Regions from separate parts of the Homo sapiens genome. Here region 1 is linked to region 2. A link means that fine-mapping ties the variant in region 2 to the expression of a gene that starts in the linked region. Tissue or cell type: breast. Region 2 holds a variant in brackets; the other region holds the start of a gene. All regions are shown on one strand. Distances are from middle to middle.

What was found. PIP is the estimated chance that this variant, and not a neighbour inherited with it, causes the effect.
Region 1: it holds the start of PKP1, and the variant in region 2 is the best candidate, but not a certain one, in a credible set for the expression of PKP1 in breast (GTEx, PIP 0.55).

The regions. Positions count from the first base shown.
Region 1 is chr1:201,280,280-201,285,500 of GRCh38, reverse strand. PKP1 (plakophilin 1) reads right to left here and starts at 1,995. Exons shown (of 14, transcript NM_001005337.3): 1 at 1,597-1,995. The coding sequence starts at 1,798. RefSeq lists an enhancer at 1,625-2,154.
Region 2 is chr1:201,309,144-201,314,364 of GRCh38, reverse strand. PKP1 (plakophilin 1) reads right to left here. Exons shown (of 14, transcript NM_001005337.3): 3 at 805-1,199. Among named protein-coding and RNA genes, the nearest start is that of PKP1, 28 kb to the right of the region's middle. The variant G/A (reference allele first, on the strand shown) is at 2,537.

The DNA of each region.
Region 1 (5,221 bases), 29 kb after region 2:
GGGAAGGAGGCAAGTGCTCTGGAGGTGGCATGATCTTGAGTGGAAATGTGACGAGAGGAGCCTGGAGCCCACACAAAGGCAAAGAGCACACAGAGAAGCAAAGGCCTTTAGGTCTGGGGCCCAGGAAGTCCTCTGCCGGCCATTTTCCTTCCCTCGGCTCTACAAGGGGCCACTCAGGAATGGGGGCTAGGGAGTAGGTGGGGGGACAGAAGCCACAGGTAGAAGGAAGTGTGAGGTGTGTGTGTGTGTGTGTGTGTGTGTGTGTGTGTGTGTGTGTGTGGTGGAAGGGCCAGGGTCGGTTTCTTTTGTCTCCTTCCACCTTATTACCCCCTGCCCCTCACTCTCTCCTAAGGCCTGTCTTAATACATAAGTCTTGGTTGACCTGTACTGTTTGGTAATGGGTAAAGTCTTATTAGCATTTTACTAAACTTAGCTAAATAAAATAAGTAAATAAATAAACAAGTGGAATCTTTGCTCACTTGTGTGTAATTCTTACCAGGCATCCTTTGTATCAAAGTGTTTACTTGGTCTATAAGCTCTCCCCTGTCAGGTACTGCCCCTTCCTCCTTGAGTTTCCTGGGTGCTGCCCCTTTCTCCCAGGTTCCCCCAGTCATGGGATCTGGCCTCTCAGAGGCTGGAGGAGGGGGTGCCAGGCCCGGGATCCAGCTTGGAAAAGTGCCCGTGAGGGTTCAGCTGGAGGTCTCCCTGGGGCCCGGGGGGATTTCCAACCTGCCATTCCGTACTCTCCCCATGAGACACTTGTTTCTACCTAAGCTGGGTGGGGTAAGAAGAATCCAGTGGGAAAGAGGATTTCTGCATTGGCTATTCGGGAAAGAAAGCATCCCTGACCCCCTTCCCTGTCGTCAAGGGACCCACTGGCCCTGGGGCGGCCTTCCAACTAGGCTAGCCTCTTTCAGGAGGCTCTCGATAAAGTGCCCTGGAGTTCCAGGCCCTCGTCCCTGCTCCCTGTGCCACTTTCCCGTCCCGCAGCGCCTCTCCTGAGCTGCACTCCTGTCTCAGCGACTCCCTCACCCCGCTCGCGGATACTCATGCGCGGCCCCACAGGGACTGGGGTTCCCCTTGGCCTGGACGCTGGGCATCGGCCTCCAGCTGAAGGCCAGGAGATCAAGCCCAGGAAGGGTGAAGGGTGGCCCACAACCGTTTGCGAGCGCGGGGACCATGGGCCCCAGGACAGCCGGGGCCAGACAGGATGCAGGGCAGATCCCTAGAGCAGCATCCGAAAGAGAAAGCCGTCCAGACCCAGGGCTCAGGGACAGGAGAACCGCTCGCGGGGGATCCTCAACCTCCTGGCACGCTGGGACATGCTCCTGGCTGTGTCCCGGTGAATCACCCATCCTTGCCCACTAGCGCGCCATCGAGCTCGCGGGGCCGTCGAGCCAGCCTCGGGTCGCGTTTACACCAGCTCAGAACCGGCTGGGAGCTCGGCTGCTCGCACTAGGTGCGTAGACCCTGCCTGGGGCCGGCAGCCCCTCGCCTCCCCTCATCCCCGGGGATGCGTGCGTCTCTTGGTCCCCGCCACTGGGCCAGGGTGCTCTGGAAAGGGGCGCACGGACCACGCGGGGGCCGAGCCTTTACCTCGATTGGAGTGGCTCAGGGTGGACGACTGGGAAGACTTGGACTTCTGCCGCTTGACGGTCATCATCACCTGCTCCTGCACGCGCTGCCTGCCAGACGTGCCTGTTTTCATCTTTTGGTCCGACGGCAAAGCCAACGTGGAGTTGTCCTGGTCCTGGAAGCATTCGTACGCCAAGGCGGTCTTGAGCGGCGAGTGGTTCATGGTGGCGGGAGGCGGGTGGCGCGCGGCCGGGGCCTAGGAGAGCAGAGAGGCGAGGCGAGGTGCGGTGCAGCGGGCGGGCAGGAGCGTGCTCTTCTCGCTCTCAGCGGCTCCCTACGGCCATAGAGTGCGTGGTCCGCGTGAGGGCTCCCTGCAGCTGCTCCTGGCGCTTCCACCCTGGTTCGTCCCTCTCTGGCACTGGCGAGGCCCGCCCTCCGTCAGACAGGATATACCACCCCTGCCCTGCACCACCCACTCCACCGGGCCGCGCGCTGCTGCTGCTCAGACGCGGAGCTGCAGGGCACTGCTGCTGCGGAGCCAGCGCTCTTGGGGGCAGGGCTGCGAGTCCCCTGTGTGGGACGCTGGGCGCCTTCCTGCTCGCTCTTTTTTTTCTCTCCCTTCCCTCTCCCCATGAGCAAGAAACGTCGCAAGCCTTGAGGCCCCAGGGAGACGCCCCTCTGTCCTGTTCTGCCGGCTCACTGAGAAAGCATGTGCTCAGCTCAGGAACCGAGGGAGACCTCTCTCTAGGAAAGAAAGGAGTCTTTCTTGACCAGGCTGCCCAGGAGAGCCAGGCGTCCATCTCCCTCTGTACTGAGGTCATAGCAGAGACCAACCCCGGCGGTGGAGGCTCCCGGGCTGATGGCAGAACCATAGCTCTTGCTCCAAAGGAGTGCTCCATCTTATGGGGGTAACCCAGTCTACTCTAAAGGAGCTTCCTCTGAAGAAAGTGGGGTAGGGGCAGTAAGGCCACATCAAGGAGCAGACTTGGGATATCAGACCACACAGTGGGTATGCCTTGGTAAAACCGGTGGTTATTTGTTGTTCATGAGTATACCCCGGTAAAACACCACGTGAACAGCGGATCCTCTCTGAAACTCCACTATAACCTCTAAAACAATGCCTGGCACACATAATATTAGGCGCTTAATAAAAAATATTTTAAATAGGTGAATACGTGAATGCTAGTTAATTTAAGGTAAATTAAATCTAACTCGGATCCTAACCAGATCCTCACTGAAAAATTGAAAAGCTGCTTTACCCTGAAATTTCACTCTGGACTTATTATTCTGGGACCACTGTGTGCATTCCCCTATATACACTCACCCCTGGGGACACATGTGCAGTGAAGCTTTATTCATGTAGCATCCTCTCCAGGCGTGGAGGGAGCCCACATCAGTGAATTTGGTGTGTAACAGGAGCTGAGTGTTTTTTTTTTTTTTTAAGTATTTACTTTGATGGAAATCTTTCTAAAAGGTATCGCATTCTGTTTGCCTCCTAAAGCAAACAACACTGAACATATTTGCTGTACTTCTTGATGCCCTGGGTTTCTCATTCTGGACATCCATTACTGAACTGTGTAGTCGTGCTGTCCGGTCAGTTTCTTAGTTTTGGGGCCTCCACCAGTGTGTGACACTATCACAGCCGTCACTCTTGCTGTCATTTGAGGCTGCCGCTCACAGCTCACATATTTTACTTTTAGTTTGCTCTTCTAATCTACAGAGGAAAGGACAATCAGAAATCTATTCTTTTTGGGAATTTTATGTCGAGGAAGGATCAAGAAGACTGAATGACTGTCTCAGGGACCATGTACATGAAGGTCACTCACGCAACTCCTGAGATGTGGGTGTTACATGCGGGGAGCCCCAGCTTTCCCAAGGAAGGTATTCCTAGTAGCAATTTGCAGAGCAGATTATTGTAAAGCAGATTATAGTTTCCAATAGAAACAGTTTTATTATTGAGGGCGCTGTTCCTAAGAACTTAACCTCAAGTAAACCAGAGATGTGATAAAAAATATGTCATAGATGTGTACAAAATACCTGTAAACCTCTATTATCACTTCATATTGTAAGATTCTGCCTCTAGCCATAGACCGCCAGGACTGGACAGAGCCTTGGACTTCATCCAGCCAAGCACTGCATTTCACTGATTAGGAGAGGAGGTAGCTTGCTTGCAATGCCCCAGTTAATATGTGGCAAAGCCTGCATCCTAACCAGGCCTTGTGACTCCTGGCACAGTGCTCATTCCACCACATCATCCAGCTTCCCTTATAAAAGTCCTATAAAATGGACATTAAAGTACAGTGCACACCGATTATATAAGGGCCCCAATGTACTGTAAAGTATACACAGCAGCATATAAAAATACAATTCTATTGTATCACACATTTGGCCTATCTAAAACCTAATATGCTAGCCATAATAAATGTTAATTACATCTTTAAATAACGATAATTTTCCTATTCTAGGATATAGAAGGGCCCTGAAGGAGGGGATTAGAGTAGCTCATCTTCCTATAAAAGGCAAGTCCGTGGAAGCAGAACTGATTATCTTTAAAATTGTTTCCAGGTATGAAGTTCAGTTTTTCTAGCTACTTCTCTACTATGTTAATATTGACATTATTTTGACATATTGATAGCAATAGCATTTACTATGCTCCTCCAAACACCATGCCTACCAACCAGGCATTGTTCTGAGCCCTGTACACGAACCACATCATTTAAATCCTTACAATGACCCTATGAGGTGGGCACCATCACCCTTCTTTTTCAGATGAGGTAACTGAAGTTCCATGAGGCCACCCAGCTGGCAACAGGCAGACAAGGCAACTGCAATCCAGAGCTGGACACTCAGTGGCAGTGCCAGGCTGCCGCCTCGAGATTTCTCTGTGACAAGCAGATCCTTCTCTGGATAGGTATTTTAACAGCATCCATTCCCATCACAGGGCACGAAAGTCAGGCCAGCTGGGTTCCTGATCTAGTTGTGTCACTAACTAGCTTCATGTTAGACAAGTGCCTTCCTCCGTCCCTTGCACCAATCTACAAAGAGAGCGGGTAAACTTCGTGGCTCCTAAACTCCACTCTAGCCCCAACATTCTATAATTCTGTCGATTGTGGGGATTTGTAGGGCAGGACATCTTGAATCAGGCCCTTCTGACAGAGGAGGAGAGGAAAGAGAAGTCAGGTTACACATTCTGGGCCACGGTGAGGGAGATATACTCAGGCTGGGAGGATTGGTTTGGGGCTCAGGTATATGGTTTTGAGCCAGCAGGCCAATGCTATTTCCATAATCTCTCTCTCTCTTCTGCCTGCCTGAGCCCCACCCTATGTGGGGCCTGTCTCAGAAATCAACCAGCAAGGAGGCTAACACTCCTAAAGTGAAGAAAAGATGTCAAGGAGGCACAGTCACATGATCCTGGCTCTGAAATGGCATGCTTTCAGGTGACTGTCAGAACATATATTTAGATGTTAAAATTCTAATGGATATGGGTTAATTTTGGCTTGGAAGGTGTTGGGGGTGATCAGGGGGAAGCATCCTGAAAGAAGTTAATTTTGACTTGATTCTGAAATAAGATGAGTATATTTTCATCCTCAAAGGAATGAGTATGAACGGGCTTCTAATTCTCTTTGCTGCCTCCTTAGAGCATTAA
Region 2 (5,221 bases):
TCAGCCTTCTGAGTAGCTGGGACTACAGGCACCCGCCACCATGCTTGGCTAATTTTTGTATTTTTCTGTAGAGACAAGGTTTCATCATGTTGTTCAGGCTGGTCTCAAACTCCTGAGCTCAAGCACCCTCTACCCGCTCCTGCCTCGGCCTCCCAAAGTGCTGGGATTACAGGCGTGAGCCACCACACCCAGGCCATGTCCCTCAGTTTTTATGTCTATTTGTCCTATTTGTCCTTTGGATTTACCTGTCTTATAACGTAACCTGAAACCCATTCTATTCCCGTCGTCCATACCGGGGCATATTCCTTTGCTCTTTCAGAACATGGATAGAGATTTACATGCCTAAGATCAGAGGTTCTCAAACTCTAGTGTAAATCAGAATCACTGAAGGGCTTGTTAATATATGCATTGCTGGGCCCCTCTCCCAGTGTTTCTGAGACAATAGGTCTGGGTGGGTCCCCAAATGAGCATTTCTAACAAATTCCTGGGTGATGCTGATGTTGCTGGTTGGAGGAACACACTTTGAGAACTATTAGCCTCTTTCTGTTCATAAACTGTGACCTTTAAAACCTACACAGTCAATGTCTGTTTCACCTTCACACTAAGAACTTCTTGAGTTCAAGGGCCCATGGGGCCAGGTTCTCCCCATTAGGGAGTCCATTACACCAGGGGCAATGAACTCCCCAGGGACAGAAGCTATGTCTCTCCTGTCATCCCAGGAGCCCTTTGCAGGGTGCAGTCAGGCTAAGGGTGTGTCTCCCCACTGGCCCTCCTGGCTCCCCAACCCAGCCCAGCAGCACTCACTTGGAGCTGGCCCTAGAGTGGCCAAAGGACAGGTCCTTGTTGCAGGAGATGGGCGGGATATACACAGGGTCCTGCTTGGAGGCACAAGAGGGCGGGCGCACAGGGCACTTCTTTATGGCCTTCTGACCACTGCAGGTGCTGTAAAAGCTGTAGCGGTTCTGGGTGGTCTTCTGGCCCTTGCTGCCCAGCGTGCCCTTGCGCAGGGTGCCCCGTGGGTCACAGTAGAGGTCGGGCTCACTGCGGCTCGCCTTGATTTTCTGCATGAAGCAGATGTCGCTGCCTGCGCCGGTGGTGTTACAGCTGCCCCGGGGGTAGTGCCGGCTCCAGTTCTCCATCTGGCTGTAGGAGCTGAAGCGCCTGTTGTCAGGCTCCCGCTTGAGGGTTCCATTGTAGATCTGGCCAGGGAAAGGGAGAAAAGCTCAGTCAAGGTTCCTAAATGGGGGTCCTGGATCCAGCAGGGCATGAGATACAGCCCTCCCCAGCCCCCATAATAACGCTTACAGAATCCCAGAATGTTTGGCGTGGAAGGAACCTGAGCCATCATCTGATATATTACTTTTCTAACTGCAGGCTGTGACCCATTGTGGATTATAAAATCAATTTAGAAGACTATGGCCATCATTTTTAAAAAGATGGAATAGAATAATATATCCTGGAATATAAAATATCAGAGTGCAGTGCAGGTAGTAAAGTCACACATTGTTTTGTGAAACAGTGTATGGGTACTGGGTTGCAACATACGTGACATACCTAAAGGAGCTACCAGGTGTCATAAGAGGGAGGATGAACCCAGGAAGCCAAGACAGCCCAGGAAAGGTGTATGCACCAGTATCAGAGCCCCATGCTAGTCTCACCCCACAGACACAGAACGGGTCTAAATATGTCTCAGAAAAGTGGAGGAGGATGGTCTGCCCAGATGGGGCACTTCGAGTGAAGCCAGGCTTTATGACGAATGGTGCAGTGTTTCTTTACGTGGGTGCTGTCGGCACCTGAGGCAGAACAATCCTTCGCATTTATTACTGTGAATTGCTGTCAAAAAAGTTTGACAACCTCTGATCTGGTCCCACATGGTACAGTCCAGGAGGGGGAGTTGGAGGCCCAGAGAAGAGTGACCTTCTAGTAGTCACTCGGTGAGGAAAGGACAAAACCTGGACTTGAGTCTGGGTCTCCAAGCCCTATGCCATTCCCAGACACCAGCAGCTTCTCACACAGCCAGCCTTCTTGGGCCCCTTATACTCAGCACACAGAAACTTCTATTCTGGCCAGGACTGTTTTCTACTGTTCTTTTCTGCTAAACTCTTCATCTTGCCTCCCCTCTTCCAGGGCAAGAAGCAAAGGGTAACAGGTCACCTCAAAGGCCAAAGAGGGACAATATTCCTGCTCCCTGGGCCCTTTTACAAGGGACTGTGAGCTAGGGGCCTGCGTGCACACATGGAGGCAGGCCTGGGGCTGCAAGGTGGGGTACAGGGAGGGCCTCCTGGGCTTTGTTGTCAGGCTGGCAATGGGGAGAAGCTGGGCAGAGGCTCAATCCGGCACAAAAACATACAACAGACAATGAGGTGCCTCATGAGCTCTGTGTGAGCCCAAGTGGGGAGTCGGCCTCCTTGGGAGGGGCCTGTGAGGTTGGAGACTTGGTGCGAATCAGTTCTGGAACAGAACTGTCCGAGGAGGACTTTCCCAGGAGCTCACAAGCTGGTGGGTCTGGCCTGCTCCAACTTGTTCTCATAGTAGA[G/A]GATCAACATCGAGTATGATAAAAAAACATCTCCACACAGGTGCTGACTTGGGACTCACCTTTGCTGGGATGGGCCAGGGCCAAACCCAGCAACCTAGGGCCTGCCCGCCCACCCCTGCCCCTCCCTGAGAGAGAGAGAGTATGTGTGTGTAGGGGAGGTCGTTAGGCAACTGGGTAATTCCCTTCTGCACCAGATCTAGCCACACAAGCTGGGGAGGGGCTGGCACTCGACTTGGTCCTTTTTCATCTCTGCAGGGAGTCACAGACAGCAGGAAACTCCCATGGTTTGAGCTCCCAGAAAGACTGGGTGTCAAACCACCAGTCAGAAGTTGCATCCAAAACTCAGAAGCCACAGACTGTTAACCTTGGCAATAGCCTGCTCATCCCCTTCACCCACACGCCCAGCTGTGCACTCAGGCAGGCATAATTTTCTTCCCCAAACTGGGTCAACCAACCTACTCCAAAGAGAATTGGTGTCTGGTTGTTGGGAGAGGCATAGATGGACAATCACAAGGCATGGGGAGAGCAGCTGGGCAATTTTCTGAGCATCTGGGTATGGAATGCGTGTCCTGCAGATTACAGGCAAAATATGCCATGAAAGCCTTTACAAATGGCCACACCCTCCATTCTCCTCTCAGGGGAAGGAAGGTGGCAGATGACAACATGGAGGGGGAAGCCCAGCATTGCCAAAGGGCAAAGAGCCAGCTAAGCCTTAAATGGAAATGCAACAAGGAGCACCCTTGTTCTCCATAAACGACACGCCTGGACGTCATCTCAGACACCTAATGAGAAGCCCAAACACTCATCCTGGCCCAAAACCAGCAAACATGTGATCATGCTGATTGAGCCTCTCAGAGGCTTTGGGCTTTGCTTTCCTGTGCTGGGAAAAGGAGCAGCTGGCAGCCTTGCCAAGTCTCAGCAAGGGTGGGCTGCCCACAGGGAATGGGCATTGGCTGCACCTGCAGGGGAGCGGGCAAGGTGGGGAAGGCAGAGACATCCCCGTGGGACTGCATTTCCCAGCCTACCACCATCAGCCACACCCTAGTGGCGTCACCCATTCCTGGGAACCCCACCCCAGCTCCTAGTGTCATGGTGCTGGTGGGCTGTGCTGCCTGAGGACAGCTGGGTATGACTCTCTCCCATCATCATGGCCCTTTGCTGTCACTTTGACAAGCAGGAGTAAAGCCTCCTCTCAGACCCCGTCCTCCCCAAGTACCATGAGGGGGCCTGGATTCCCTCCAAGGCACAAGGAGGTGAACTGCCACCAGCTCTCCCTGCACAAATTGGCCTGGGACCTGGATGAAGCCTGCAGCCTTGAAGGCTGAAACGGCAGCAACTGCCTGGGAATCCAGGTGCTTCCTCCAGCTCACTGGGCTGAGATCTACAAACTGGAGGAAGACCCAAGGTCAAGAACACAGACTCTGGAGCCAGCCTGCCTGGCCTTGTCGTTGCCCAATGGGTGGCCTTGGGCAATTACTTAAGCCCAACGTGCCTCAGTTTTTCCATCTGTAAAACTAGTATAATTGTAGCCAACATAGAGGATTGTTGGGAGAATCCAGTGAACTAATGTTAGTAAAGCACTCAGGACAGTCCACGATATGAGTGTTTGCTCGGTAGGGACATCATATCCCTCTGACTCTTAGATTGGGCACAGGCTGGCTGCCTTAGGACTTGGCTCCTAAAGGAGAGATTTTATGTCACCTGTGACATACCTAAATGGGATACCAGGTGTCATAAGAGAGAGGATGAACCCAGGAAGCCAAGACAGCCCAGGAAAGTGTATGCACCAGTATCAGAGCCCCGTGCTAGTCTCACCCCACAGACATAGAATGGGTCTAAATATGTCTCAGAAAAGTGGAGGAGCATGGTCTGCCCAGATGGGGCACTTCGAGTGAAGCCAGGCTTTATGATGAATGGTGCAGTGTTTCTTTACTTGGGTGCTGTCGGCACCTGAGGCAGGACAATTCTTTGTATAGGCTGTCCCAAGCATGGCAGGATGTTTAGTGCCCCAGCCTCCAGGTTCTAAATGCTAGTAATGCCTCACAGTCATTGCAAAATGTCCCCACACGTTTCCAAACACTGTCTTCCAGGTCCCGAGAGAGCAGCTGCAGCCAGAAGAGGATGCACGGGCAGTGCACGTGCGCCCGCTGCAGGTGGGAGAGCTTCACCGCCAATGCCGGCTCTCCCAGCCACACCCCCACACTCAGATAGCAATCTGCTGGCAGCGTCTGGCTGTTTGAATACAAAGGACAGTGACACACACACAACCTCTTGTCTGGTTATCCCATGGATCAGAACATTCCAGAGGCTGGAAACTCAATTTCCTGAGAGCAGAGTTGGTCACTCTGCCAGACAGCAGGCTAGACTGGACAGCCAGACAGAAATCCAGAGCATTCTGAGAGACATGTTTCTTCACTTGGGAGACCAGTGGGGCTTTTGAGGGGTCCCACAGCCCGAGGTGAGCCAGGAAAAGCTGCTTTTAGCTAGGAGCCCCCCAGCCAGTCCCCGCTTTGCCGCCTGCTTGTGTAATTCCCCTTCTCCCCTTCCTTCTTGGAGAAGTGGGGTGTTTTAACCCCACACTGAAAGCTCCCCTCTATTCCTGTCCCTCATTAAGTCAGGAAGCTCTCAGAGGCCAACCCCTCCTTTATAGGCAAGGAGACAGTCTCAGTGAAGCAATACAAGCCC